4 separate regions of the Homo sapiens genome follow, and regions 1, 2 and 4 are each linked to region 3. The links come from fine-mapping of genetic effects on gene expression. A gene starts in region 3. Each other region holds a variant in brackets. All regions are shown on one strand. Distances are between the middles of the regions. Region 1 has its middle 41 kb from the start of FAM87A. Region 2 overlaps FBXO25 (F-box protein 25). Region 3 holds the start of FBXO25 (F-box protein 25). Region 4 overlaps FBXO25 (F-box protein 25).

Evidence for each region. PIP is the estimated chance that this variant, and not a neighbour inherited with it, causes the effect.
Region 1: its variant is fine-mapped to the expression of FBXO25 in monocytes (TOPMed, PIP 0.91).
Region 2: its variant is fine-mapped to the expression of FBXO25 in cerebellar hemisphere (GTEx, PIP above 0.99).
Region 4: its variant is fine-mapped to the expression of FBXO25 in skeletal muscle (GTEx, PIP 0.98).

The regions. Positions count from the first base shown.
Region 1 is chr8:338,477-346,654 of GRCh38, forward strand. No RefSeq gene overlaps it. Among named protein-coding and RNA genes, the nearest start is that of FAM87A, 41 kb to the right of the region's middle. The variant G/T (reference allele first, on the strand shown) is at 4,076.
Region 2 is chr8:471,599-479,776 of GRCh38, forward strand. It overlaps FBXO25 (F-box protein 25), which reads left to right. Exons shown (of 10, transcript NM_183420.2): 10 at 1-6,369. Among named protein-coding and RNA genes, the nearest start is that of FBXO25, 69 kb to the left of the region's middle. RefSeq lists enhancers at 7,449-7,950, 7,951-8,178. The variant C/A (reference allele first, on the strand shown) is at 2,868.
Region 3 is chr8:402,320-410,497 of GRCh38, forward strand. It overlaps FBXO25 (F-box protein 25), which reads left to right and starts at 4,639. Exons shown (of 10, transcript NM_183420.2): 1 at 4,639-4,747. RefSeq lists an enhancer at 2,201-2,260 and a silencer at 4,362-4,771.
Region 4 is chr8:465,948-471,300 of GRCh38, forward strand. It overlaps FBXO25 (F-box protein 25), which reads left to right. Exons shown (of 10, transcript NM_183420.2): 10 at 2,768-5,353. The coding sequence ends at 2,857. Among named protein-coding and RNA genes, the nearest start is that of FBXO25, 62 kb to the left of the region's middle. The variant A/ACT (reference allele first, on the strand shown) is at 3,108.

The sequences.
Region 1 (8,178 bases), 64 kb before region 3:
GATTCATATCATAGGACCTACATTATGACTCAGAATTGGGAATTTTTTATTTCATAAAAATGGTTGGTGGTAACTGGGTGCCATTTTGAAATATCCACAAGGCAATGAGACCACAAGATACTTAGGATGAAATCTCTGTCCTTCTGGTTTTCAAAGCCGTGCACATGACATTTTTCTAAAACTCTCATGAATCTGCTAGACCCTGAGTGACCGCAGACAGCTTCTGTGGGTTAGCGTCCATCAGCGATGGCAGTCGGAGGAGTTCTCGCCATGGGAAGGTCAGGTCCTGAGCGGGCCCCTCCCCTGGAAGGGAAGCAGAGGCTTTGGGAGAGACCTGGGAAGGGGCTGGGCTGCCCAGCGATGGAAGGGAGTAGGGGAGGCTGCAGAGCTGCTGAGAGGGCCCTCCCGAGGGCCTGCAGGTCATCCTTTTCTGAAATCTACAGAATGTTTTCCTGTGGAGTTGTCTTTGTGCTTTTTGACTAGATGTAATCATATAAACCATGACAACCAAAATAAGAGGGTTTGCTTTCCCTATTGCCACCTTCCTTGGTATGACCTTGGGTTTTAATGGGTTTTCAGAGAGTGGGACCAAGTATTCTTCAAAAAGGACGTTCACTCCTTATGACTCCACAATTTGGGGTCTTCAAGGTCTTTTTTAAAAAACACTTTGGTTCAAAGCCCAGCCCATTCCAGGCCTTGTTTCAGACAGAGAGATGGAGAGTCAGCACAGCGGTCAGGGGTCCCTGGGCCAAACTCCCCACCTTGATGTCACGCATTACTGACGTTCCCGACACACAGCTCGAGGGAATCTGGGCACAGGAAGGAAGCTGAGTGAGAGTGGCCTTCCCGGCGAACCTCGCTCCTGAGGGTTCAGTGCTGACAGTGGCCTGGCTCCATGCAGGTTCTTAAACGGAGAGACAGTGATTTAATTAAACCACTCTTCGCCCGACTCTCCTGCCAGCTTCATGATTGGATCTGCAACATTCTCCAGCCCTGCAAGTCCAGGCCCCTCTCTTCTTTGTCTCATTTTTCACACTGATATTCACCTCCATTAAATGTGTCACATTTCTAAATTATCTCAAACAATAACAGTGCTGATCACATGCTTTGGACAGGGCAGTTCTCTCATTTTTTTTTTTTTTTTTTTGGACAGGGTCTTGCTCTGTCACCCAGGCTGGAATGCAGTGGCACGATCTTGGCTCACTGCAGCCTCGGCCTCCTGGGCTCAGGTGAAACTCCTACCTCAGCCTTCCAAGTAGCTGAGACCACAGATGTACACCACCACACTCAGCTAATTTTTGTATTTTTTATAGAGACAGGGTCTCGTTATGTTGTCGAGGCTGGGCTTGAACTCCTGGGCTCAATCAGTCTGCTCACCTCAGCCTCTCAAAGTGCTGGGATTACAGATGTGAGCTGCCATGCCCAGCCTAACACTTTTATCTGTGGTTGTCCAGATGACTCTCATGTGGATATAAAGTTAACAGTTGTGCAGCAAATGCTGTTTGTGGCTTCAGGCTCCTGGCCTCATGGAGCCAACAGGACTCAGGCTGGGCTCTGAAGGCGTCTGTGCAACTGCTCCACGCACATGGTCTGTGCTGCACTCCAATTTCCCCCTAAAGGATGTAGATTTGATATTAGTTCATTAAACATTTATTTATTTTTAATTTTTTAATTAAATTTTTTATTCCTTAATAAGCATTGTATAGATTTAAGGTGTACAAGGTGATGTTTTGATTTACATACATGTAGTGAACCGTTTGCCACAGTCAAGCAAATTAACACCCATCTTCCCATGTAGTTACCTGTGTGTGTGCTGCGGATGGGAGAAAGTGAGGACATTTAAGATCTCTCTCAGCAAATTTCAAGTATATAATACAGTGTTATTAGCTATCAACACCACGCTACACACATCAGGTCTCCAGGATTTATTTATCTTATAACTGAGCTTTTGTAGACTTGGGGCGTCCATCTGCGTGAGATCAGGCGGAGTTTGTCTCTCTGTGTCTGGCTTATTCCACTCAGCATCATGTCCTCCAGGCTCATCTATGTTTGTGCAAATGGCAGGACTTCCTTATTCTAAGGCGGAAGAGTGCTCCGTTGTGTGTGGACCAGAAGGAAGGAAATCTGTCCTCAGAAGAGATGTCCACAGCCCGGTGTTGACTGCAGCACTCATCACAGTGGCCAGGATACGGACACAATCTAAGTGTCCATTGACAGATCAATGGGCAAAATGCTCATCAGACATTTACTGGAAAACTGTGCAGCTCTTCCCCTGGGCTGTGTTCTGTGAGGGTTTCCGCCCCTCACCATGTGTGCACCACGATGAGTCCTCTCTACCCCCGGAGACTCAGACTCAGAGGCCGTCTCCGTCATGGTCTCACGACACTGCACATCAGACTCAGAGGCTGTCTCCACCATGGTCTCACAACACTATATTGCACATCAGACTCAGAGGCCATCTCTATCATGGTCTCCCAACACTGCACATCAGACTCAGAGGCCGTCTCTATCATGGTCTCCCAACACTGCACATCAGACTCAGAGGCCGTCTCTATCATGGTCTCCCAACACTGCACATCAGACTCAGAGGCCATCTCCACCATGGTCTCACAACACTATATTGCACATCAGACTCAGAGGCCATCTCTATCATGGTCTCCCAACACTGCACATCAGACTCAGAGGCCGTCTCTATCATGGTCTCCCAACACTGCACATCAGACTCAGAGGCCATCTCCACCATGGTCTCACAACACTATATTGCACGTCAGACTCAGAGGCCATCTCTATCATGGTCTCCCAACACTGCACATCAGACTCAGAGGCCGTCTCTATCATGGTCTCCCAACACTGCACATCAGACTCAGAGGCCGTCTCTATCATGGTCTCCCAACACTGCACATCAGACTCAGAGGCCGTCTCCGTCATTCAGAGGCCGTCTCCGTCATTCAGAGGCCGTCTCTATCATGGTCTCCCAACACTGCACATCAGACTCAGAGGCCATCTCCACCATGGTCTCACAACACTATATTGCACATCAGACTCAGAGGCCATCTCCATCATTCAGAGGCCCCCTCCATCATGGTCCCACAACACTGCACATCAGACTCAGAGGCCGTCTCCGTCATGGTCTCACAACACTGCACAGAACCTGGCCACAGCTGTGGACACTTAATATTAATTGGAGAATGAACATTGCTTAATATGTTCCCCATGATTCAGACCTGTCTGGAAAGTGGAGAGGAGGCTGGGGTGGAGCCACACGAGTTGCAGACCAAGGAGAAGAATCCAGGGAGAAGCAGCCACGCGGCTGCAATGAAGACAGAGGTGGATCCAAGACATCCGCAAAGGGCCCCTGTCATCCTAAACTGTGATTCCAGTAAAAGCAGTGAAACTTTTAAAGAGTGCAAGCCTCACGTCAAATGGAGTCAACTGACGGACTGGCGTTTTGGAAGAAAATGTGCAATTCTGATGACCACCATGGGTTAATATCTGCCATATATAAAGATATCTTAAAATGACCAAAAATCAAAATTGTCAAGAAACAAGAGAAAAATGTGTAAAGCATAAGCATAGGTTATTTAAAGAAAGGAACACACAACTAATAATCCTATAAAACATATGAACAAATGTTCATCCTACCTGGAATTTAGGGAAAACTCAAATTAAAATATTATCTATCAGGTTGAGAAATATTAAGAAGTGTCGTAACCTATATAGCTGCAAGACGTGAAAGAAAAAGGAAGTTCTCAAACATTCCTTGTGAAAAAACAAATTTTTGCAATCTTTTGAAAAGAGTGTGGCAAGATATATTAAAATTATAAATGACATACCCTTCATACCCGTGACCTGACCCCTGATAATTTATCTCATAGAAATAAAAGCACATACGGAGATGGGCACCAAGATGCCGAGGGGCCGAGACTGCCAGCCTAGTTAACCGTAGAACTGCCCCCGATGCATCCCTCGGCCCCATCATCAGGGGAGTTTAGGGGTGCAACTGCTGGCACCAGACACTTTGGTGGCCGACTGCCCATCCATGACAGTGACAATGTCTGTGCCAGATGGTGACAAC[G/T]TTCCTCCACTCCACCTTGGGGGGATGGTGCCAGTGAGGACGCTGCAGGAGAGAGTACAGGTGTCTGCAGTAAAGTCAGGCATCACATGGGCACTGTCTTAGTCCATTCATTGCTGTAACATTCAGCCATAACCTGGGTGACTTGTGCATGCATTGATTTCTCACAGTTCTGGAGGCTGGAAGTGCAAGATCAAAGCCCTGAGGGATTCGGTGTCTGGTGAGGGGTGGGTGGGGGCGGGGGCGGGGATTGCTTCCTGGTTCACGGAAGACACCTTCTTACTTCTTAAGGGGGACAGGCCAAAAAGCTCCCTTGGCCTCCAATCCCACTCATCGGGGCTCCATTCTCAGGGCGTAATCACCTCCCAAAGCCCCTGGTCCTAGTATCAGCACCTCGGGGATTTGGATTTCAACAGATAAACTTGGGGGACCCAGCATTCAGACTATGACAGCTAGAAACACAAACATACACAACACTCCTGAGCTCAGCCTTGTCTCCAGAGTTCTGCTCTTTCCAAAACTAAAGTTAGGCCCTCAGTGACTCTGTAATTCCACTCCTCTGTGGAAGTCATAGTGCCCAGATCTATTTATGCCAATAGAAATGAGACAGACAGACCCCGTCACCCAGCCCATTACTCTCACTAAGCAAGATTATTCACACTGATACATATCTTATCATTGCAGGCCATTAGCAAGGTGCATGTAATGTTCTGCATGCCCTGGGGAGACTAGAAATAATGACAGTTGTCAACGCTCCCTTCCTTCCAGAGCCCAAGACGCTGTCTCCAATGTCAGTCCCAATGACGGCTGAACAATGACATTGGCCGTTGTCCTGGCTGCCTTCTCCGACGCCCTCTGCATGTGACCCCAGCAAATAAATCTCTGCACTCCTCTACCTCCTTAGAGAGTGGAAATCCTCATGGAGAAGCAGGCACAAGTGTGAACTGCTTATGTGAGTGGTGTCAAAAGAAGAGGAGGACTCGCAGAGGGAGAGAGAGAGAGCCAGGATGTGAGAAGAACGGGTCTCTGTGTAGACTGTTGCTTGGGAAGAGTTTGTATGTTGGTTAGGATGAGAGAAACTTTATGTCGGGCCTTGGCATGCTGTTCCCAAGAATAATCTCAGGACCAAATAAAAAAAAATATGAGCAAGGACATAAACTGGCATTTCACAAAGAAAAAAATATAAATTTTCAATAAATGCGTAGAATAATATTTAAGATCATTAGTCATGAGAAAAGAAATAAAAGAAAAACAAACGTCATTGTTTCCAGTGTGACGTTTAAAAAAATTATTATGACACCCCGAAAAATAGCCACATTCAAACATTTCATCCACTGTACATTCTGAGGAGGAAAAAGTTGATCCGAAATTTCCCGAGCGCTGTCAGGCAGTTATCCAAGAGTCACAGAAACATTTACAGTCATATCTGGGTTTGCTAGAGATGGGTAAGTTTTACTTTTTAAAACTGCTTTGCTGTGTGTTTCAAACTTTCTACAATGATCATATTATACTTTTATAATCAGAAAAAAACTTTTTTAATATTTGAAATTTTCATTAAACATTAAAACGTGGGTCTTTTAGGTGGAAGCTGCCACAGACTATGAGGTACGGAAAATGGCAGCATGTCCCCTGTAGGGCCTGCCCAGTGCCAGACAATTATTTCCTCGGGGAAATGCACGTGGGAGCACTAGGCCCAGAAGGGGTGGGAGGCTCACGGGATTTTGGCGGCCGGTTCTTTCTACGGAAACGGACATTGCTGGGTGTAAGAGATGATGCCCAGGCACTGACTAGAGTTTCCTTACTTTCTTGCTGAAACAATTGGGAAAAAGACTAATGAGAAGATTTTCGTAGCCCAGCTGCATCCAGAAATGGAAGGTTAGGAGCTCCTGGCAGGTGCTGGTTAGGGAAGCTTCCATGAAATGCCTCACCAAGGACAGTAACCCAGCAGCATGTGAAACAGGCCAAAATGTTCTTTTTTAAAAAATGGAGTATTATAGACAGGATCTCCTAATGACCATTTTGCATACCCAGGCATTTCACACAGCAGAGAAGTGAGGCCCAGAGAAGTTAGGCAACTGGCCTGAAGTCACAGAGCTAATTTAATGGCAGGGCTGAGACTCAAACCCAGCTATTCTACAGGACCCCAGAGCTCCTGCTCGTTCTCTGCCCAGCCTCTGGCTGCTCTGTTATCCCTGGTTCCTGGGAATTCACTTCCTCCCCGCATCCTCATCCTGCCTGGCAGGTCCAGACCCTTAGTCTGATGTGGGCAAAGGGGTCTGAGACCCACTGGCCTTCCCCCAGCTCAGCCACTCATGGTCGTCTGAGATAGGGCAAGTGACTTGCTCTCTGACTCAGTTTCCTTATTCGTAAAATGATGATGACATGACTCAGTATTTGTGAAGACGCTAGAACTCTGCCTGGTCCAGAGTCAGTGCTATATGATTGTCTGTTAAGTGAAACGAATATAAACTATATACAAAATACTGATTTGTGTGTGACGTTTCCATTTGGGGGATCATTGTGTAAATCCTTTTCCCTCGCGAGATCTTTTTCCCAGTGTTTCCCAGCCCCTGTTGCTGCTGCTGAGGGTTCTGATTCCGTTCCGACTGCTCAGCCTTCCTGCCTCACCCAGGTGGACGTTACAGGTGTCAGTGACTCACTTTTCTGCCAACCAGACACTTCCATGTGCTCGGAATTCCAAGACCACACTGCGGAGAGCCGGGGGCCCCAGCATCCCTCAGATGCAGGAACGAGGGCCAGATGTGGGGCTCTGCACCCTGACCCCAAGCCCATGCTGCTCCCACAGGTTTATGGGGTCTGGAGGCTGTGATGGAAATGGGGAAGACGCTTCAGCATTGCTCAACAGTGGGAAAGGGGCCCAGTGATCCGCCAGCAATGCTGAGGTGTGGGGCCCCGGAAAGGGGAGCCAGGGACAAGGGTGAGTGCTGCCGAGGGAGGGATCAGCGGGTCATGCTCAGTAGCTTGTCAGATGGTAGGAGAAACCCACAAAAATTAAACCCACAGCAGCCGAAAATAGAGTGGAGTGGTTAGAGGATACAGTTGAGGAAATCTCCTGGACAGTTCAACAGGGGTGGCTAACAAGAGAGAGAGGATAATAAAAATATGTCTATGTGAAGCTTGCGGTGATGTAAATTTTACAAGTCAACTTGGTGGGGCTCCGAGTTTCCAGAATAGCTCAGCGCTGGAACCTGTGGACGGAGGAGAGCAGACCCACCCTCCCCCGTGCAGATGGCACCATCCAAGCCGCTGAGGGCCTGAATAGAACACAGAGGTGGAGGAGGGCTGGGTGACCGCCAGACTGCTGAGCTGGCCTCCCCCACCCCCCATCTTCTCCCATCCTCAGCTCTCTGGTTCTCAGGCCCTGGGCCAACCCCACCGGCTCTCCAGGGGCTCCAGCTGCAGACACCAGATCAAGGGGTCTCCCACCCTCCATGGTCAGGTGAGCCAGTCCCTTGCAATACATCCCTTTATCCCTCCACATCCCATTGGCTCTGCTTCTCTGAGAGCCCTGGCTACTATGGGGGATCATCAACAATCAATACAAGAAAGTTCCCTGCTCTGAAGGCCATTGCTCCCACTACGGGGCATTCATGACAATTCCGATCATCTCAGTGGCCACAGGTCAGTCCAAAAATGTGGTTTTGCCTACAAATTGGGACAGCTAGGGGAGACCAAGGGCTGAGGGGTACAAGGTGGGGCTGACGTGTGAAGGAACAGCTGTGGCCTTCCTGGCCAGCGTGGGTCATTCCAGGGCAGCCGCAGAGCAGGTCTGTGTGTCCCGGCTGCCTGTCAAGCGTGCTGCATGCACGTCAGTGACCCTCTAAGACCCGCGTACATTCTACTGCTCCTCTCCCTGTGTCAGCTACCAGGGGCTGGTATTTTCTATCAAGTCGTCAAATCTCTGCAAATCTAATTATCCTCCTTCAGTGTGCCAGACAGAAAGTGGTAGCGGCAAGGAGCTTTATCTTACATCCCAGATCAAGTTTGTCTTGATCACCAGTGTCCTCCGCATGGATGACCTACTTTAGGTGCTGCCCGTTGCTGGTGGGTGATAGTGAAATCTTTCAATTTAAGGAGAAATTAAG
Region 2 (8,178 bases), 69 kb after region 3:
GAATCTCCAGTCATTCTCGGACCTGTTCTCAGTCTGCGCTGCTCACTCAGGGCTGGTGTCTCTTGACACCCAGTTACAACTTCCTTTTGCCTATTTTGAGTCAAAAAGTCACATTCCTCACCTAATTTATGAATACACACAAATTGGAAAGCCATGCAGTAGCCTCTCAGGAGCAGACCGATTTGTAGCTGTCGTGGTTTACTGCATGACGTACAGGCTCTCTGTATGCACTGTGTGTGCGTACTGTACAGGGCTGTACACAGCAAACTGTGTCTACTTTATGGAAAAAATTTAACCATCTGTGAACAGTTTTTTGCCTTAAGTGCTGCTTTTAGAACCAAACTGTCATATAAGATTTATCAGCTCTTTTAACACCTTTGTAGATTCCTGATGCTGTGTACAAAATCATGTCATCTATGAATAGACAGTTTCACTTCTTCCTCTCAGTCTAGATGTCCTTTATTCTTTCTTACCCCGTTTCGCTGGCTAGAATCTCTAGTACAATGTTGAATAGCAGTGCGAGAGTGAACATCCTTGTCTTGTTCCTCATCTTAGGGGAAAGCTTTCAGTCTCACCATTAACTATGATGTTAACCCTGGGTTTTCCATACATACCCTCTATTAGGTTGGGGAGGTTCCCTTCTATTCCTAGTTTGTTTTTATCGTGAAAGGGTGTGGATTTTGTCAAATGCTTTTTCTGCATCTCTTAAGATAATGTAGTTTTTGGCCTTCATAAGATCATGTGCTGTTATTACATTGACTGATTTCTATATCTTGAACCAACCTTGCATTCTTGGGTCAAAGCCCACTAAGTCATGGTTTATGATACCTTTTATACATAGCTGTTAGATTTGGTGTGCTGGAACAGCCAGCCCTCTGTATCCACGGGGGATTGGTTCCAAGACCCCCACCCCCACCCCACCTGCCACCCACCACCTTGTGATCTCTTGGGTTTTGGTGTCCATCTCATAGGATAAGCTTAGAAAGTGTTCCCTCTTCTGTGTTTTGGAAGTGTTTGTGGTGGTTTCTTGTTAATTCTTCTTTAAATGTTTGAGAGAACTCCATATAAGATTTGAAGTCACTGAGAAGCTTCAATTATCCTTTAAGAGGATAAGACCATTTTCTCCAGAGATGCCTTTTAATGGTTTTTCTTTTCATTGCGAAGGCCTAACTTAGTAGATAAGTGGACTGTGAAACCTAGTCTGTTCTGCTTATCTTCAGAATTATCAAAAGGAAGGGGTGCTGCCCTCTGAGAAAAGTCAGAAGCAAGCCTGCCTTATGAAACTCGACTTTTTAATCTCCCTCTCTTCATTATGATGTGTGCACGTGATGGACACCACTCACCTCCCTTTAGTCCCTATCAAATGCTACCCAATGGCAAAGCCAAGGGATTAGCAACAGGTAGGAGGAAAAAGAAGGACCTGCATACATGACTAACCAGCACCAGCCATTGGGGCCCTCTATGGCTGACACCAGCATCCACCCTGCACTCATATGTATCTCAACAGAATTGCTGCTTCTGTCTTCACTCAAGCCCCACTCCTTATCCCTTCCTGTTGTTTCTGCATAGAGGAGGCAGACCCTCAACTTTGGAAAGCAGTGTCCCCCCGCGTCCCATGGGCTAAATGCCACTGAGCCGGTAGGAGCTGCTCAGGTGTAGCCTCTGCCTTCAGAATTTCAGCAGGAACTGCATCATTGTGTGCCTAAAAAGCCCTGGCTCACAGCATGAGACAGTGTGTTCTAGGTGGTAACGTGGCACCTGCACATGCACCCCCAGCAGTCCTCTCTAAACTCAGGCAGTGTATGGCTGCTGCCATTCTCGCCCTCAGCATCTGTGAGATGAAGGAGTTGCTCCCCAGGGCACCTGCCCCAATACAGGCCACGTGGATCTGCCATTGCTTTTCACGTGAATGCCTAGGAGAGGCTGTTAACCCTCCTAGTTGTCCTTTTTGTACTTGGTCCTCTTCCTTCCAATCCTCACTGGCTCAAATCCACAGAGTGACAAAGAACAGAGATGCCCAGAGCACCAGCTGGAGGGGCAAGCAGGAGAAGGCACTGCTGGTGCCACAGGGGTCCTGGGCTGGCTCTTGGACCATAACCAGCGTTCACTGAGGATGCGGTTTCTTTGAAATGCTCTTGTTCTTCCTAAGTAAGGGAGAGCAAAAAAAATGAGGACATCTGTGTCAAATAGAAGAGACACCTCAACTGTCTCGTTTTTGCATGGAAATTTCATTTTTATTTGATAATCATTTGAGAAACTTGCACAGATGAAGGCAAGTTGGTTTTTATTATCTAACCTATGTAGTCAATTCTAATGTCATTTAAAAGAATTTGACATGTTAAAATACACGTGAAATTTACCATCTTACCTATTTTAAGTGTGCAATTTAGTGGCATTAAATACATTCATACTGTGCAACCTTCTCTACCACGTATCCACAAGTTCAACTTTACAAGATGAACTTTTGTCATCTTGTAAAACTGAAGCTCTGTACCCATTAAGCACCAACTCCCTATTCCCCATCCACCAGCCCCTGGCAGCCTCTGTTCTCCTTTGTCTCTTTTAATTTGACTTCTGTAGGGACCTCGTATGAGTGGAACCAGAAGGGATTTGTCCTTTTGTGACTGGCTTATTTCACTTAGCGTAATGTCCTCAAGGTTTATTCAAGTTGTAGGATATGTCAAGATTTCTTTTTAAGGCTGATTCTATGGATGGACCACATTTTGTTTGTGTACTCATCTGTTGAGGACACTTGAGTTGCTTCCACCTTTTAGCTATTGTGAATATTGCTGCCGTAAACATGGGTGTGCAAATATCTGAGTCTCTGCTTTCAATCATATGGCAATCCTATGTTTAATTTCTTAGGG[C/A]ACTGCCATAAGTGTTTTACACGGTGGCTGCACCATTTTACATTCCCACTGAAGGTTCCAGTTTTGCCACATCCTTGCCAACACCTGTTTTTAATAATTGCCATCCTAATGAGTGTGAAGTGGTATCCTGCTGAGATTTTGATTTGCATTTCCGTAATGACTGGTGATGCTGAGTATCTGTTTGTTGGCCGTTTATATGTCGTCTTTGGAGAAATGTCTATTTGGGCTCTTTGTCCATTTTTCAATCAGGTGTGTGTTTTTATATGTTCTGGGTATTCACCCTTTTCAGATATATCATTTTAAAATACTTTGTCCCATTCCGTGGATTGCCTTTCACTCTGTTTTGTTCTTTGATGTACAGAAGTTGTTTCTTTCTTTTAGTTACCTGTGTGTGCCTCTGGTGTCATATCTAAGAAATCACTGCCTCACCCTTTTCAGATATATCATTTTAAAATACTTTGTCCCATTCCGTGGATTGCCTTTCACTCTGTTTTGTTCTTTGATGTACAGAAGTTGTTTCTTTCTTTTAGTTACCTGTGTGTGCCTCTGGTGTCATATCTAAGAAATCACTGCCAAATCCAATGTTGTTAAAAGTTTCCCTTATGTTTCTCCTAAATGTTTTAGTTTTAGCTCTTAGTTTAGGCCTTTGATCTATTTTAATTTTTATATATGGTGTGAGGTAGATCTAGCTTCATGTGGATGTCCACTTGTCTAGCACCATTTGTTGAAAAGACTGTCCTTTCTCCCTTGAATGGTCTTGGCACCATCAAAAATCATTTGACCCATATGTGCAAGGGTTTATTTGGGGATTTGCTATTCTGTTCCATTGGTCTACATGACTGTCTTTGTTTCAATACAACACCATTTTGATTATTGTAGCTTTGTCGTAAGTTATGAAATAAGGAAGTGAGAGACCTCCTACTTGGTTCCCTTTCAAGATGATTTTGGCTGTGTGAGGTCTCTTGAGATTCCATATGAGTTTCAGGATGGAAAAAAAAAAGCCACTGGGATATTCTGATAGAGATTGCATGAAATCTATAGATTGCTTTGGACTATGGACATCTTAAGGTATCCAATCCATAAACACGGGATTGCTTTCTATTTATTTGTGTTGACCTTACTTTCTTTAAGCAGTGTTTTATGGTTTTCAAGTACAAGTCTTTTGCTTCCTTAAGTTTATTCCTAAATATTTCAGTTTTTTTGTTACTATTATAATGGAATTTTCTTAAATTTCCTTTTGAGATTGCTTGTTATTGTATAGAAATATCATGGATTTGTTGTGTTGATTTTGTAAACTGCAGTGTTACTGAAATTTTTTTTTGTATATGTATGGACACTAGGATTTTCTACATATAAGATCATGTCATCTGCAAACAGATAATTTTGCTTCTTCCTTTCCAGTCTGGATGCCTTTTATTTCTTTTTCTTGCCTAACTGCTCTAAGACTCCAGTACTGTGTTAAACAGAAGTGGTGAGACAGGGTATTTCTGTGTTGTTCTTGATCTTAAAGTCCTTTCAGTCTTATTGAATATGATGTTTACAGTGGGATGTTCATATGGCCTCTATTTTAGGTTGTTTCCTTCTATTCCCAATTGTTGAGTTTTTATCATGAAAGGGCATGACATTGTCTCAAATGCTTTTTCTCCATCAATGGAGATCACATTTTTTTCCTTCATTCTATTAATGTAATAGACATTACATTTATTGACTTGAGCATGTTGAAACATCTTTGCATACCAGCTGTAAATCTTACTTGGCCATGATGTGTAATCCTTTCAATGTCCCACTGAATCCTGTTGGCCAGTATTTTGTTGAATATTGATTTAAAAAAATCTTGATCAGGAATACTGATGTGTGGTGTTTTTTTCTTATAGTGTCTTTGTCTGGTTTTGGTATCAGAATAATGATGGCCTCATAGAATGCATTTGGAAGTGTCCTTTCCTCTTCAGTTTTTTGGAAGAGTTTGAGGAGAATTGATTTAATTCTTCAGATGTTTGCCAGAATTCCCATATGACCCTGGGCTTTTCTTTCTTGGGAGGCTTTTCTTTACTACTTCATGCTCTTGACTAGCATAGGTCTGTTCAGATTTTCCATTTCTTCATGATTCAATCTTGATAGGCTGTGTGTTTCTAAGAATTTGTCCAGTTCATCTAGGTTATCCAATTCTTTGATATGTAATTGCTCATAGTACTCTTAATCCTTTTTATTTCTGTAAAATCAGTTGTAATGTCTCCTCCTGGTTTTTAGTTGTTTTTCTTAGTCACTCTTAGCTATCAACAAACTCTTGGTTTCATTTATTTTTCTCTATTGCTTTTCTGTTCTCTATTTTGTCTCTGCTCTAATCTTTATTATTATTATAATCATCTCCATTCTGCTGGCTTTGGGTTGATTGCTCTTCTTTTTCTAGTTCTTTCAGATGTAAATTTAGGGTTGACTTGAGATCTTAATTTGTTTAATAGGTGTATTTACAGTTACAAATTTCCCTCCTACCACTGCTTTGACTGTACCTGTTTTTTTGTATATTACATTTTTCATTTACCACAAGATATTTTCTAATTTCCCTTGTGAGTTCCCCATTAATCTGCTGGTTGAGAGCGTTGTTTAATTTTCACATAATTGTGTACTTTTCAGTTTTTTGTCTGTTACTGATTTCTAGTTTCATCCCACTGTGGCCAGAAAAGATATTTTATTTCCTCAGTCTTTTGAAATTTGTTGACTTGTTTAGTCATCTAACATACTGTCTATCCTAGAGAAAGGTCCATTTGCACTTGAGAAAAACGTGTGTACTGCTGTTGTGTCTGTTAGGTCCAGCTGGTATGATGCTGTTCAAGTTCTGTCTTGCGACTGATCTTCTGTCTGGTTGTCCTATCCGTTACTGAAAGTGGGCTACTGCAGTCTCCTACTCTTACTGTAGAACTATCCATTTCTTCCTTTGATTCTGTCAATGTTTGTTTCATATATTTTGGGCTCTGATGTTTGGTGCATATATATTACATCTTGGTGAATTTTCAAACTTTTTAAATTTCAACATGAAGATGAAATTATAGGATGTCTGGGATTTCCTTTGAATCCGTGGGGCTGGGAGTAACTATAAATGAAACAAGATTGGCCGGGAATTTGAGGCTGCAAGGATAGGTACACACAGGGGAGTGAAGCAGGGCTTGGAGCAGATGGTAAAGATTGTTGGCTTTTCCAGCCATGGGGCTCTCTTGCCACTTGGCAGTAGTGGCATGAAGCCGCCACCAGGGGGCCACGCACCAGTGCATGTGGCTGTGTTCCAAACTTTTTGGACAATAAAATCTGAATTTCACATACTTTTCTTATGTCATTAGATATTACCCTTTTACATCTTTTCACTATTTAAAAATGTAAAAATCATTCTTAACATTTGGGCTGTGCAAAAACAGCTGGTGGGCCCAATTTTGGCCTGTATTTCACTTGCCAACCTGATTTATACTTTTGTATCTATTTGACATTTTCCATTAAAAGTTATATAACACTACTTTTTTGTACTCGTTACTTTTTAAAAAAAACTTTCTACAATGAAAATACATTATTTTTACAATAAAAAGCCAAAATACATACACAAAAATGTTACCCATTAATTATGGGAATTACTTCAAGGTAATTCTTATTTTGAAATATCTTTCCAATATTTTCTCTTATATCGCTTTTTGAAGACGCATAACATGATCCCAAATAAACAGTTGAATAAACACCACCCTCCTCTCCCCTCCTGCCCAGAAACCCACCCATCTGGAGCTGCATCTCCCAGGAAAGGAGACTCTAGAGGGAACCGCCTTCTTGCATTTCTCTAGCCTGGATTCCCATGGGAAAGATGTGTATCTTCATGCTGAGCTTTGAAGATTCTTACAGAATAAAAATTCTTACCATATCCTTCTGTCTTAATAGCACGTTTTAAAGTCTCTAGGGAGAAGAGATTTCTGTAAACACTAGTTTCCAAAGAATAAAAAAAAAAATCACTTCTCAAAACTCAAATGGTATTTCCCATCACCCCCACACCATCCAGATTTGTTCAGCTTTCTTGAAAATAAATTATCTAAATTTTTAAAAATATTTTCCTAAAACTCTAAACAGAAGTAACGTCAAAGGGATCAATAGCCTCACTTCTTATGAAAGCTAAAACTCTACCCCTTTATCAAAAGCTAAAACTCTACCCCTTTATCAGTAAGTAAGTGAAAATATCTTTGCAACTCTGAAAAACCATGCTGGGACATTAATTTCTAAATACTTAAATGGCGGCCAGGTGCAGTCCCTCACACCTGTAATCCCAGCACTTGGGGAGGTCGAGGCCAGAGATTGCTTGAGCGAGCCCAGGAGTTCAAGACCAGCCTAGGCAATATAGCAAGACCTCGTCGCTACAAAAAAAAAAAAAAAAAAAAAAAGAAAAAGGAAAAAAGCCAGGCATGGTGGCACACGTGTAGTCCCAGTTACTCAGCAGGCAGAGGTGGAGGCTGCAGTGAGCTGTGTTTGTGCCACTGTACTCCTGACTGGGCAACAGTGTGAGACCCTGTCTCAAAAAATACATAAATATTTAAGTATCCACCCGAACTGACAGCCTTATAGTACCGGGGTGGGGGGCGGTCACTGTTACTGTCAGACACACTTGAAAAAGATGAAACCACTCACTGGTAAGATAACAGTTGGTCACCAAAAGGCAAAGATGCCAGCATGATGATGATAAGCTTCAAACATAATCAGAAACCCAGTGGATGGAGATTTGCCATGAAACAGCAGGTCTTGGAGATACAGTAACCAAAACTTAGAGAATGGAATACCTCATAAAGGTGACATGCCCTTCAGTGGTGATGAAACCAGTCTTTGAATCAGAGAAAGGCACAAAGGAAAGCAGCATGTTCCCAAGGCACACATGCCAGGAGAAAACAAGCCCACCAGCAGGAGGCCTGCCTTTAACACTCACCTGCTGGTGTGAGAGCAGACGAGGCTGCAGCCACATCAACCCTGGCTCTCCTATGTAACATTCACTCAGGACTGCCCGTGCCCCTCCAACGGGCTCAGCGCCATTCATGTTGCTTATCTGTTAACCTCTTCCCCAAACCCTGCTCTTCCAGCAGACGGCGCACACACTGTGCCACACGTGTGGCTGAAAGGATAGCCATGCGTGGGGATAGCCGGAGGTGCGGTCGCTCCCCAATTACTACATTTTCCCTCTAAAAACTTAAGTGTCACATTTCAAAACACCAGCTTCTTTAGCAAACCGGTTTTTCTGTACATAACCCAGACAGGCACCTCTCTGGGGCCCCCATGTCTACACAGAGTTGGGCACTGC
Region 3 (8,178 bases):
ACCCCCCAGACATGAGTTTACCTACATAGCAAACCTGTACATGTAGGGTGATGAAATAATCTGTACAACAAACCCCCCAGACATGAGTTTACCTGTATAGCAAACCTGTACATGTAGGGTGATGAAATAATCTGTACAACAAACCCCCCAGACATGAGTTTACCTGTATAGCAAACCTGTACATGTAGGGTGATGAAATAATCTGTACAACAAACCCCCCAGACATGAGTTTACCTGTATAGCAAACCTGTACATGTAGGGTGATGAAATAATCTGTACAACAAACCCCCCAGACATGAGTTTACCTGTATAGCAAACCTGTACATGTAGGGTGATGAAATAATCTGTACAACAAACCCCCAGACATGAGTTTACCTGTATAGCAAACCTGTACATGTAGGGTGATGAAATAATCTGTACAACAAACCCCCAGACATGAGTTTACCTGTATAGCAAACCTGTACATGTAGGGTGATGAAATAATCTGTACAACAAACCCCCAGACATGAGTTTACCTGTATAGCAAACCTGTACATGTAGGGTGATGAAATAATCTGTACAACAAACCCCCAGACATGAGTTTACCTGTATAGCAAACCTGTACATGTACCCCTGAGCCTAAAATAATAGATTATTTTAAAAAGATACTGGGTTTATGAAGTCCCCAGGAGGTCAGGAGGAAGAGAGAACGCTTGAGACAAGCATGGTCAGTGAGGAGCTTGCAGGGATGGCAGAGGGGCAGGGAGCAGCAGAGTTTGAGTAGAGGAACCAGAAGCCCAGCCCTGGACCCATCTCTGCCTTCCTGTGTGTGCGCCTAACTCAGCTTTCAGGTGAGAGCTGGGGCTCAGGAGGTTATGTACTCACTTGAAGTTGCACGTCTAGGAATCTAGATGATGGTCCCATGTCTGCTGTGCCCCCGCCCTACGCTATTGCTAGGACAGCCAACCTCTACTCAGGGGCTGCAGCCGGTCAGCTGGCATCTACCAGGCTCAGCTGAGAGGGGTTCAGAGCCTAGAGGAGCTGTGGCATGCCAGGTCTAGGCTGCCTGTTGGCTGCTGTCAGGATGAATGCTGTTGTACATAGATTCTTTTTGGCAACCAGAGACTTTCAGACGTCAATGGCCATGCAGTCTCCATGTTGCCCTTCCCATCCTGACACCACACACTCCTTATGCTGCAGCCACCATGGATGCCTGAGTGAACAGCCCTCAAATTCTATTCTAACTCCTTATTTAAAAGATAAGGAGACCCAAGACTGAGAAATTTGACATAAATAAGCAAACCGGCTTGCCTGAGCTGAGTACTGCGTTTGGTCTCACGATAGCTGCCTGCTGGCGTCTGATTTTCACAGCTAGTACAACCTTCCAGCACCTTCCAGGATTGGTTTCTGAAAGAGGGGATTGTTTTTGCTCCCAGTCCCCCTAAACATTCTGTAGGTAATTACAGCACTCATGGCCCCATTTTCTCACTGTGTGTTTGCCACCTTGGGTCTGTTCAGATGGCAAGCTCCTGAAAACCAGGCACCTCCTCCTTGTACCCATGGCACCGTCGTGGTGCCTGGCTGCTGTCAGCACAGAGCATTAGCTCTGAGACACCTCCTCCTTGTACCCATGACACTGTCGTGGTGCCTGGCTGCTGCATTAGCTCTGAGACACTGCTGTGTTTCCCTCCTAGTTCTGCATCAGGTGGTACTGTTTTGTTTTGGTGGCTTGGTTCATTTTTTCTTATTGCAGTATTATCACTGCATAGAAAGCAGAAGTGGTCTTCCCATATTGTGTAAAATCCCCATTAAACATACACCACATGCTTCAGAGCGGCAGGAACAGGAAGAAGGATGGGATTCCCCGTGCCCGAAGGTATACCAAGTCTACATTGTCCTGAGAGTTAGGGACTACATACACTTGTCCGTGCAGCATTTGGGAAGGTCAGAGGAGACGACTGTGTGGTGTGCATTGGAGAAGCGTGGGACCCCTGTGCTCACCACCACCCTAAGCCCCTGTGAGGCAGGGGGCACCTGGTGCACTGTGACCAGCACTCTCCCAGCTTCCTGCCAGGAGGAGCCAGCTCCTTAGGTTCTGTAGGGTTTGACTTAAAGAAAATTTTAAAACATGATTTTTCAACAAGTTGATTGCCAAAAAATCTCTGTGGTTAGGGAGGCACCTCCCTACTGGTCACTAATTCCCCCTGCCGAGCCTTCTGCCCGGGCAACTGCTCCACAATCTCCAGCTGCACCATGTGTTTTGAAAAGCATTTCTCCCCGCCCCTCTGGGGTTTTTCTCCTCCTCCAGTGGTGAAATTCCCGAGGGCACTGAGTGGGTTACTCTTCACAAGCACAGAGCTAAGCCCAGTCCTGGTAGAAAGGACACACAAAGAAGACCCAAGACCATGAATATGCTCTTGACATTACTCTGTGGGCTCTGCTGTTACTCTGTGGGTTCTGACGTTACTCTGTGGGCTCTGCTGTTACTCTGTGGGTTCTGACGTTACTTTGTGGGCTCTGCTGTTACTCTTTGGGCTCTGCTATCACACTATGGGTTCTGATGTTACTCTGTGGGTGCCTGCTATTATTCTGTGGGTCCTGCTGTTACTCTGTGGGCTCTGATGTTACACTGTGGGTTCTGCTGTTACTCTGTGGATCTCTCTGTGGTTACTCTCTGAATTCCTGCTCTTACTCTGTGGACTTCTTTTGTTGCTTTGTGAGTTTCTGCAGTTTGTTTACCTCTTTACCATCCATCCAGGAATTCTTTCACTAGGAATTGTGAGGATGCTAGCCAATTGGGCTAAATTTAATATTACTATGTCCCCCATTGTGGTGGTGGGGTCTTGGCTTGGCAATTTCTACTAGTATTCCATATGCAGTTAACCTTGACACATCAGTGAAAGAAAAATAAAATTTCAGGCCTCCAAACTTACTATGCCAAAGGGAAAAGTTAATATTGGCAAAACACACACACACACACACACACACACACACACACACACACGCAGTCTTCTTTTTGTTCCCAAAAGCTTACTTTATCTTATGTGAAATGTAGATCTACTGAGTATGAGACAGATGCATAACCCTCCCCCATACCTTTCTTTTCACATGTGAAATGTAGATTTGCTGTACTCTAATCAGAGCCTCACAAAAATGTGACCACTTGCCTCATAGCCTACTCTCCCCTCTTTCCCCTCCTACCGGCGCTTTTCCCTTAAATATTTGGAAAAAAGTACAGGCCAAAAATCCTACTGTAACCTGTGTTTCTTTTTCCCCAGACACGTCCACGATTTTGGCAGAATAAACCTCTAAATCAGTTGTGATCTGCCTCAGACACTTTTTGCTTTACACAACAATCCAATCATAGCGATTTATTTGGAAATATACCTTCACAAGTTAAATCAGACCACAGCGCTACTGGGCATTATTTATAATGGCAAACTATTGCAAACAATTTAAAACCTATCATAGACATCATAGAAACTATTCTAATAAATTGATACATTTATATAATAGAATAATCCGCAACCTTGAAGGGAATGAAGGAAGGAATAAAGAGAGAGGGAAAGGAAGAAAAGAACGGAGAGAGGGAAGGAGGGACAGACAGGTGTTTAAATTGGGGATGTGCAAGCAATATTGCCTACTTCATTGCCTTCACATTATTTAAAAGCATGTGGTCAAGAAACACTATTATAATAAGCACTTCAGAAATAACTTCTAAAATTACTTTTCCAAAATATGAATCCATACTATACACTTCCTGTAATGTGCACCACATGTAGATGCACACATTTTAACAAGGAAAAGACTAATACTCATATTTGCTTGCTACACACCAGACACTGTTTTAAATGTTTTGCACACGCTAACTCATTTGTTCTTATGGAAATCCTGTAGCGTGCACCGCCACCTCCATGTTTCTAGGCGGAAACTGAGGCACGGGGGCTGCGGCTCCTGGACCCACCTGGCCTTCTCGGCCTGCCTCTCTCCCTCCAGCCGCCCCACATTCTTTTTTCCTAATTGGAAAAAACTATTCACGCTGCTCCTCCAGGGCATTTCAACCTTCTAGAAAGATTCGACAAGATTCGAAACTGTTTATAAAGAGAACGTGCTTGTGCCCGAATGCTGAGTGTGAGCGCGCAGTGATGCCCTAGAGTGCAGTCATCCCGGGCTTGGCGCCCAGCGGGTGGAAATACGGCCGCAGGGTGGAAATGCGGCGGCGGGGCTGCCCAGGCTCCTGTGGGACCCGCGCGGCGCGGGCACGCACATTCTCAGGGACGCGCGTCCTCAGGCCACGAGAACACCTGAAGGCCCCGGCCAGCGTCCTCCCGTGAAGACCCGGACCGGCGTCGTCACCCGCCGCGCAGGCCTAAATCTCAGGTCTTCACCGTCATCTCCCAGCGATCGCAGGGATCTCAGGCACTGACCGCGCCCGTCCCTGCGCACCCGAGCCCCACCCCACGCCCCCACGCCCCCACGCCTCCACGCCCGGCACTCTGGACGCGCGCGGACGGAGGGGCAGTGCCTACTACGCAGGCGCACGCTGCGGGCGACAGGACCAGGCAGCAACATTGCCACGCGGATCCGCGCCGGCCAATCAGCATGGCCAGGGGCGGGGCTTCCCTGAGGCGCGCCGGGAGGCGGCGGCCCACTTCCGGCAATAACCGCCTGGTCGCCGTCAGGTGCGGGCCCAGGTGGCCGGCGCGCCCGTTGGGCACTGGGGGACGCGGGCGCGTCAGGTGAAGACTGGGGGCCGCAGGCGCGCTAGGTAGGTGCGGGGTGCAGCGGGCGCGTCAGGTGAAGACTTGGCGCCGCAGGCGCGTTAGGTGAAGATTGGGGCTCGCGGGCGCGTCAGGTGGGGACGACGGGCCACGGGCGAGTCAGGTGAAGACCGGGGGCGGCGGGCGCGTCAGGGGAAGACATGGGGTCGCGAGCGCGTCAGGTGGGGACGGGGCCTGTGGGAGGGTCAGGTGGGGACCGGGGGCCTCGGGCGCGTCAGGTGGGGACGGGGTTGTCGCGGGCGCGTCAGGTGGGGACGGGATTGCCGCGTGCGCGTCTGCTGAAGTCTGGGTCCGCGGGCGCGTCAGGTAGGGACGATGGGCCGCGGGCGCGTCAGGTGGGGTCTGGGGGCGGCCGGCGGGTGTGGAGGGTTCATTCAGGGAGCTGCGGGCGAGTCGGGTGGGCACGGGGGCCGCCCACAGGTGCACCGCGCGTCCTCAGCCGCTTCCCCTGCCCACCTTCTGCGACCCCTTCCCGCCCCCACCCTCCTGGGCCGTCTTGCAGGCCCGAGCTTGTGTCCGCCTCGCTGGGCAAGGTGTTTCGGGGACGACTCCTGCCGGCGTTTGCCCTCCGGGCTCGGTCCTTGCCTCTTCGCCGGTGGGCACCTGCTAGGTGTGACCCCTCATTCCTCCAGGCCACTCTGCCCCGTCTGCTGCTTACCTTTTTTTCCCTACTCCTGGTCTGTGGCTCTGGCTCTGTCTCTGTCTCCTCCCTTAATTTCTTTCCATGCTTATTTTTCTTGCAGCAGACACTAATTTTGCATCCTTCCCCTCACAGTAAGCTCAATTTGACCTTTTTCTCAATTAGATTCCACCTCTGTCCTTGGGCCTATTCAAACTCATTTTGAAGACTAAAGAATCTAGAGAACCATTTCTTCCCTTATGAAGCTGTCTCTTGCTGCCTCCAAATCCTTACCATCCGGCCCTAATCAGAAAAGACGTTTACTCTTTCATATTCTGTTTTCTCCTCGTCTTTACGTGTTTACCTTTCCCATGAGGAATCTGTGATTATCTGTAAGTCCTTAGAGTACAACTTATTTCTGACTCTCAGCCCTCAGTTTGCCATTTTTTAAAATGTCCTTTCTGGATCAAATTTGTCCACACTTATAAGCAAAACAAATAGGGAAACACATGTGGTCTTTTAAGATGGATTGGAGTTTTCTTTCCTGTGTTGTATTCCTTGTTTTAGTGCCTTTGTATTTAGGTTCATCATTACTTGAAATCATATTAGTGATCTGTAATAGACGGTAAAAAAAAAAAAAGTTAAAAAGCTTATAATTTAATGGCATCTGTTTTAATAGGGTTTTCAGGAACTGCTATTATAAACATAGTGGTTAGGAGCATGGATCCTGGAGTGAGACTCCATCATTTTGAATCCCAGCTCCACTGAACTCTTTGCCTCAGTGTCTTCATCTTTAAAATACATAATGAAACTTGTAAAACAAGAATAATGTTTTCTACCTTGGAGGACAGTGTGAGGATTAAATGAGACAACATATGTAGATTGTTTAGAGTAATGCGTAGCCTATGGTAAGCTCTAATAAATGTTTGCCATTATTATTGTTAAGAAAAAATATGCTTGTTGAAGGAAAGACATTTTTTTTTGTTCTGAGTCTCTCATGCCAAGAGTTTCCACCAGCAAATGAACTTCATGAAGTCCTTTTCTACTGAAGTATCCCACCCACGTGTCCTACCACATGAAATAGAAATTAAGGGAAGATTTTAAATAGTTAATCATTGTAGGCTGTCTGAAATAAGTTGGCATAAAATGTGCTTAAAATTTGCAAATTATACAAGCTACACCCTTTGAGTGCTTGCTCTTAAAAGTTTAATAATTTTCAGGAGTAATTTCTAGTTTTTTTGTGTTTGTAAATTCCCAAAATAAAGGTAATTTTAATTAAAATAAGCGTATAAAGCTCTAGCAATTCACATTTTTTAGCTGAACAAATACATTCCCATTGAAAGCCGTGGGTCATCATCATTCTATAAAACTTTAGTAGCATTGTTTTCTGATTTGCAAACTCAGAAGCCTCAGTTTGGGAGTATTTTTGAAAACTTGAGATCCAGACCCCAGACGTTTTAAATTGCAACTTGTCTTTTTTTGTTGGTGGTGTTGTTTTTAATCTGCATCCAGAGTTTGTGCTTTAGTTCATGAGCTGTATAGATTATGCTTTAAGAAAAACTTCATTGTGATCCATAGAGCATACCATAACAAATCTGTGAAGCACACACATCTTCAGAGAAACAAATCTTTTCCTCTGTGTTGAAAATAAGCCTTTGGGCATGGACTATTTTTTTATTTCCATGGCTGCATTTCACTCCTTTCAACCCTTAAAAAATCAAACTTATCAGCTGAGAAATTCAGACCAAACTATTCATTTTTCACTGAGTTGCCAAAATGAATTATCTGTAGAGTTTAGGTAGTTGTAAAAGAATTGGTTATATTAATGGAAACAGTAGGCAGGCTCTTTATGTAAATGTTATAAAGATTGTGAAACTAGAAGATAAGTGTATTAAATGATGAGTGGGCATAGTGTCTAAATAGGTAAGTACAATATTTGTGTGTCATCAAGTTTTAAAATATTTTTTCAGCTGAGGATACCGGGATGTACATAGGACAGTCATCCAGATAAGGTTCTGTTGGCAAGATATTTGTTGCCTAGTTGTTTTTTTCTGTCTCCATGTTTTTCATTTGATCTATCCTACAAGCCCTAGAAAATTATTATTCTCAAAACAACACTGCTCACGCTGATCTGTTGCTGAAAAACGTTTAATTACTGACAGAATAAAGTCTAAACACCTTTGATATTCTTCTATGACCTGGCTTCTAGTCGCTTATGTACCAGTCCTCTGATAAACTTTCTCCATTTTATCCCATCTTTTCTGCTTATTTTTCTCAAACTGTGGCACACATTTTGCCCTTTATACTTATTCACCCACCATTCCCATGATTGATATTTTTTGCCTTGCCTCTCCATTCATTTAAGATCTAACCATGCTTCAGGGCGAAGATCGAGTCCTAGTTTCTAGTCAGAGCTTTCCCAGCTGATTTGCTTTCTGCTCAAATTAACTTTATTCTCTCTTTACCACAAGTTACAAGATTGTGGACATATCTGTATGTATGTATACATGCACACTCACATATCTACATGTAAACACACTTTATTATATTACACTTGTATGGAATTTGTGTGTGTTTTGCTATTGTTCTTTTTTAGTTCCTTAGCTAAATTGCACACTTTTGAGGGCAGGAACATCTAGCATAATAACATGTAGTTGGTGCTCAAATGTTTGTCGTTGAAGTAATCCTGTATTTGGTCTGTTAGCAATATTTTTCAGGATTATCCACTTGATTTTTTTTTTTAATATAGATTTCTGAATCCACAGTTTCAAGTTGATATTGAGAGATAATTTGATAATT
Region 4 (5,353 bases), 62 kb after region 3:
CATATCATGGAAATTGAGAACAAGTCTCTCCTAGGAAGGACAGCTGCCCATCTCTTAGTTCTGGGAGGTTCATGTCTTGCCCTTGGAGGCTGTGATGTCCACTTCACTGTAGCTACAGTGAGTGGTCCCATCACAGCTTCTCCCACTGAATATCATTCTAGAAGGCAGTCCACGTTTTTAGTTCTGAATCCATGCATTGGAAGTATTCAAAAAGAGCCATCTCTCCTAATTTAACCCCTCAAGATGTCAGGTACTTCTTGCCCTGTCTTCCATCTCCTCCGCCGTGGGTTTGCCCAGTGTGGCTAACCAGAGGCGAGTGGCCTGGTGGGCCAAACCCAGATTGGAGTCAGGCAGACCTGGACCTGCCTCCGGGGTCTCCTGAGCTTGCTGCCCCTCCTAGGGTCTTGGTTTGACGCCATGACCCACCACACAGAGGAGCTGTGGATGTTCAGCAGTCCTGCACCTGGAAACTGGCACATAGCTGGTGCTCAGAAAATGGCACTTAGGGTTAGGGTCACTGCTTGTTCTTTGTTTGTTTAGCATCCCAGTAGTTTGTGTTGACTGAGAAACTAAAGTAATATCAAAGCTGTTAAGAAAATGAGACTGGGTGTTGTTGACTCTAAATTCTGGCCCTGGGACTTGGTCATGAGCCGACACCATGGTGCATCTGTCTCAGGTCTGCATCTGGTATTTATCACTTCCCACAGTACATAAGCTTGGAGCTCTCCAGTCAGCAGTGCTGTGGAGCCACTTCATCTGCTCCCAAGCTGGTTTCCCATCTGTTGTGGCTCTACTATATTGGAGTTCTTTTTTAACTTTTCTACCTGCCTTAGTCAGCCTTCCACACAGTCTGTAAGTAACTGGGCTGAGTTAAGCTCTGGAGCCAAAGACTGACTTCGATGGCCCTGCGAGGGTCCACTGAGAGGGGTGGCGTTACCTCCCGGCTGTACAAAACCTCAGTTAAAAACTGTAGACTTGTTGGCTGGGTCAGGGAAGCCATGATGAGCATTTGGCCTTTTTATGTCCTGTTTTTTCTTGGTGTATCAGTTGCCAGAATAGAGGGCTGGCCATCTGACGTTCACCCCACAGGCCTGTGTGGACATCAGGAGCAAAGTTGGAGCCAGAATCCAAGATGAGGTGTCCATGGTCTGGTGGTCCTGGTCTTGCAGGGGAACCGCTTTGCTAGTAGCATCCTGAACCAGCGGGGGAGAACAGCACAGGAGGGCAGCTGCTGAGGCTTGGGTCTGTGTTGGAAAGTGGCATTCACTGGCCTGGAGGAACAAGTGTCAGAGGTGGAGGCTGGCTTAAGGGCATGTGTGGAATTGACTTAATGTGCATTACTGAGCACAGAGCAGAGCCTTCGGATGTTAAATGAAGAACAAAGAACTTTCCCCAAAAAAATCTGTTATAAAGTTTTAATATAAACTGCACATGGAAATAGCATCTCTTCTTCAGTGAATAATTTTAAAGGTTATTTAGCACTGCAGCCTCATTAGTTGCCAAATTTGAAAGACTTAAAGGTAGAGATATGTTGTCTTAAGACTGTCTTCAAGTAGTTTGGGAATTTTTGGGTTATCTGATGAGAACTTGTTTGCTTTTAATAACCTTGTACTGTCCAAATTTAGTTACCTGATGTTTTTAGTTATTTTCGTAAATAATATGAATCAAACCTGAATGCTTAGATACACTCTGGCTCTTTCTAATCTTAACTTTTCCTTTTTTTCCCTCCCTTCACTGCATTCCTTCCTGATTCTTTCTTCATGATCTCGAAGGACTACCATCTTGCTTTACTATTCAAGGTACTTCCCTGTCTTGCCACACATCCTGTGTTCGGGATGAAAACGTTGCATCGTGCTGCATCTCATGCACGTCATCTTGGCCACTGCCCGGCTCGATTCCAGCTCTCGCTGACTTGAGCTTTCTCAGGACCCTGAGCAGGGCTGAGTGGCCACTTTGATCAAACACCTCAGCAAGGACGAGAGTGTTGATGAAATATTTTGCAGAACAACACCTGAGTGCTGAGGGAGGCTGCTAGATGTGCGCATAAACACTTCACCACACAGCACCTGGTTTGGCAGCACTGCCAGGGCATGCCATGGAGAGATCCAGCACTGACCCCAGAGCCTCTGGTCCCGTTTACCTGCGTTCCTCCTAAGAGTCTGCCAGTCTTCATCCACAAAATTAATTTTTCTGTCGTCACTTCTCATATTAAATATAATTCTGGATCCTTAGGTATGTGAGCATGGCCAGCTCCCTTGGAGCAAGCAGGAGCCTTGGGGGCTGAGGCCGTGTGTCCCCCTCTCCTGTCCTATGCAGGGAGCCCAAGCTGATTCAGGGATGAATGGCGGGTGGAGGGAACCCTGTGTAACAAAGTGAGCCAGGAACAGGAGGACAGGACAAAGGAATGGCTGGGACCAGAGGACAGAAAGTCCCCAGTGGTTTCTTCTGTGGCCTTGTAGATTCCGGGGCAGTGCAGGGTGGTGTCAGCAGCTGGCTCCTCTGACTCAGTACCAGATTCGGCACTGGAGGGCAGACCTGGGGCCACCGTCTCCTGCCCTACCTGAGCAGGAGTTCCATGGGAAACCTCTATGTAGAATCGGCTGCGGCTGCCCTTGTGTTGGTCATTCTCATCCAAGTTATCTCCCATGTACCTCTGAGGTGGGGCCCAGGGTCCACATCAACAAGCAGCTGACGACCCCTCAAGCACCATCACTAGAGTGTGGCTGGTGGTGGGGCCCCCTCCTAACCATCTCCCACCTCCCCACAGGACTCAGGACACCCCTGCACGGCGGCCGACCCTGACAGCTGCTTCACGCCTGTGTCTCCGCAGCACTTCATCGACCTCTTCAAGTTTTAAGGGCTGCCCCTGCCATCCCTATTGGAGATTGTGAATCCTGCTGTCTGTGCAGGGCTCATAGTGAGTGTTCTGTGAGGTGGGTGGAGACTCCTCGGAAGCCCCTGCTTCCAGAAAGCCTGGGAAGAACTGCCCTTCTGCAAAGGGGGGACTGCATGGTTGCATTTTCATCACTGAAAGTCAGAGGCCAAGGAAATCATTTCTACTTCTTTAAAAACTCCTTCTAAGCATATTAAAATGTGAAATTTTGCGT[A/ACT]CTCTCTCTCTCTATATATATAGTTCAAAAATACTTTAGGTGGTCAGCTCCACATTCTTTGTTGACGTGACACTAACGGCCAATAATATGCTTCTTAATTATCAAATTATAGTTTCCCAATTGGGAAACTAATTGGGGGTGGGTTACAAAACATTTGATCCTTGTAAATACATTGTACAGAATATTTATTTTTTCTCAAAATGCATTTTAACTACTACATTGGCTGTGCCCAAATGAGTCCTCTTTGAATAGAAAGTGAACCCAGGGCAATGACAGCCATTCTTGTCTTAGGGATTATGGATCGGGGTATGAAGTGTGCACACGCAGCCCAACAACGGGCAGTGGTCTCTGTGCTCCTAGGCATCCAGCACAGGTTCTGGCAGGGCACCCCTGCTGGGGTTGGGGGCTGGTCTGTGCATAATCCTGGACTGTGATGGGAACAGCCCAGTGCAGTCTAAACTTCAATTGTGTTGAAACTACTTTAATAGACAAAGTAATAAATCATGTTTATCTATTGATTTAAACTTCATCAGTTTTGCATCCTACTGAGAAATGTTAGTGATTTTGATACTTAAATCCTTAAAAGATTGCTTCGTTTTTAAAATAACGCATGTCCATTTTAGAAAATTAGAAAATCAGTCCCACCACCCAAAGATTATTGTGCATGCTGAAAAGAGTATGAAAAATCCCCTCAGCAGGCATAGGATAGAAACGTATTGTTGTATATTTCCATTTTTGAATAGGGTCAAGGAGCCCAAGCAAATCATTTCTACTTTTTCCTTTAAGCATAATAATAAAAGTATACTTTTATGGCGTTATAAATAGGACTAAAAAAAGATTCTGGATTTTTCAGCCCCACTTCTGTGAACTGACACAAATGGCCAAGAATGCATTTATTTGTCAAATTATAGTTTCTCCTGAGGCGATGCAAATACCTGGGGCCTCTGCGAATATATGTTAGTTTTTCATAAGACCATAAATGTCCCGTATACCACTGTTACTTCACAACGCCCCCCGTCCCGACCCTGCCTTTTTTTAGAAACGTAGAACCATATCCTAAATGTTATTTGGAAACTTGGCTTTTATTAGCTCCACAGAATCACCCAGATGGAACAGGCTTTTTCATCACAACATATTGGGGTTCCTGAGTGTCTCGCCGTTAGCATCAATAACTATGATAAGCATCGTCACACAACAATGTGGCCGTCTCCTTACAACCACTGGTAGTACAGCCAACATCATGAGTCAAACATATTTTAAGGCTTTTAAATATATTTCTAGATTGTTCATGAAAAAAAATTTTTTTGGAGTTTGTTTTTGAGACAGGGTCTTGCTCTGTCACCCAGGCTGGAGTGCAGGGGTATGATGTCGGCTTACTGCAACCTCTGTCCCCCAGGCTCAAGTGATCCTCCCACCTCACCCTCCAGTGATCCTCCCACCTCAGCCTCCCAAGCAGTCAGGACCACAGGCATATACCACCATGCTCAGCTGTTTTTTTGTATTTTTAGTAGAGATGGGGTTTCACCATGTTGCCCAGGCTGGTCTCAGGAGTTTGAGCTCAAGCAATCCACCTGCCTCAGCTTCCCAAAGTGCTGGGATTACAGGCATGAGCCACCACGTCCAGCTGAGAAAAGAAATTGTTCTAATCTAGGAAAGGGAGTAAGTACATTGAGTTTCCATTATCCCTGAAGCACAGGTATTTCTTTTTCTGTTGGTGCTGTTTTAATAAGTGAAGAATTTGATGTATGATAAATTGTGAGCTTGAATATTTCCATATATTTATTATCCATTTGCTTTTCTTGTTTTTGGTAAATTACTTAATGTGGTATTTGCCTGTTTTTTGGGGTGGATGTCAGTCTTTTTTCATGTTAGTTTCTTCTTAAAAGGAAACTATCCTTTTGAAGTTGTGGTTCTTTCCCCTAATTTGTCATATACTGTTACTGTCATTTAATTGTTAGATGTTATAACAGTTCTCAGCTGTGCTATCAAATCACAGATGTGCATTTAACTTGTATAAATTGAGCAGTACTTGCTTGGAAAACATAACCATATTAATAGTGTAGGATTCCAGCTGTTCTGCTGGGCTGGCATATTTCCACAGGCCATGGACACAGCTAGCCGCATTGCCACTGCATGGGTCACAGCCTCCTGCAGGTGCGTTCGAGGGACAAGCTGTGGGAGCTGGGCAGGTAAGCAGGGATGGCTTACATTGCTGGGGAGAGATTGAAAGGTTAATGGAGGGTATA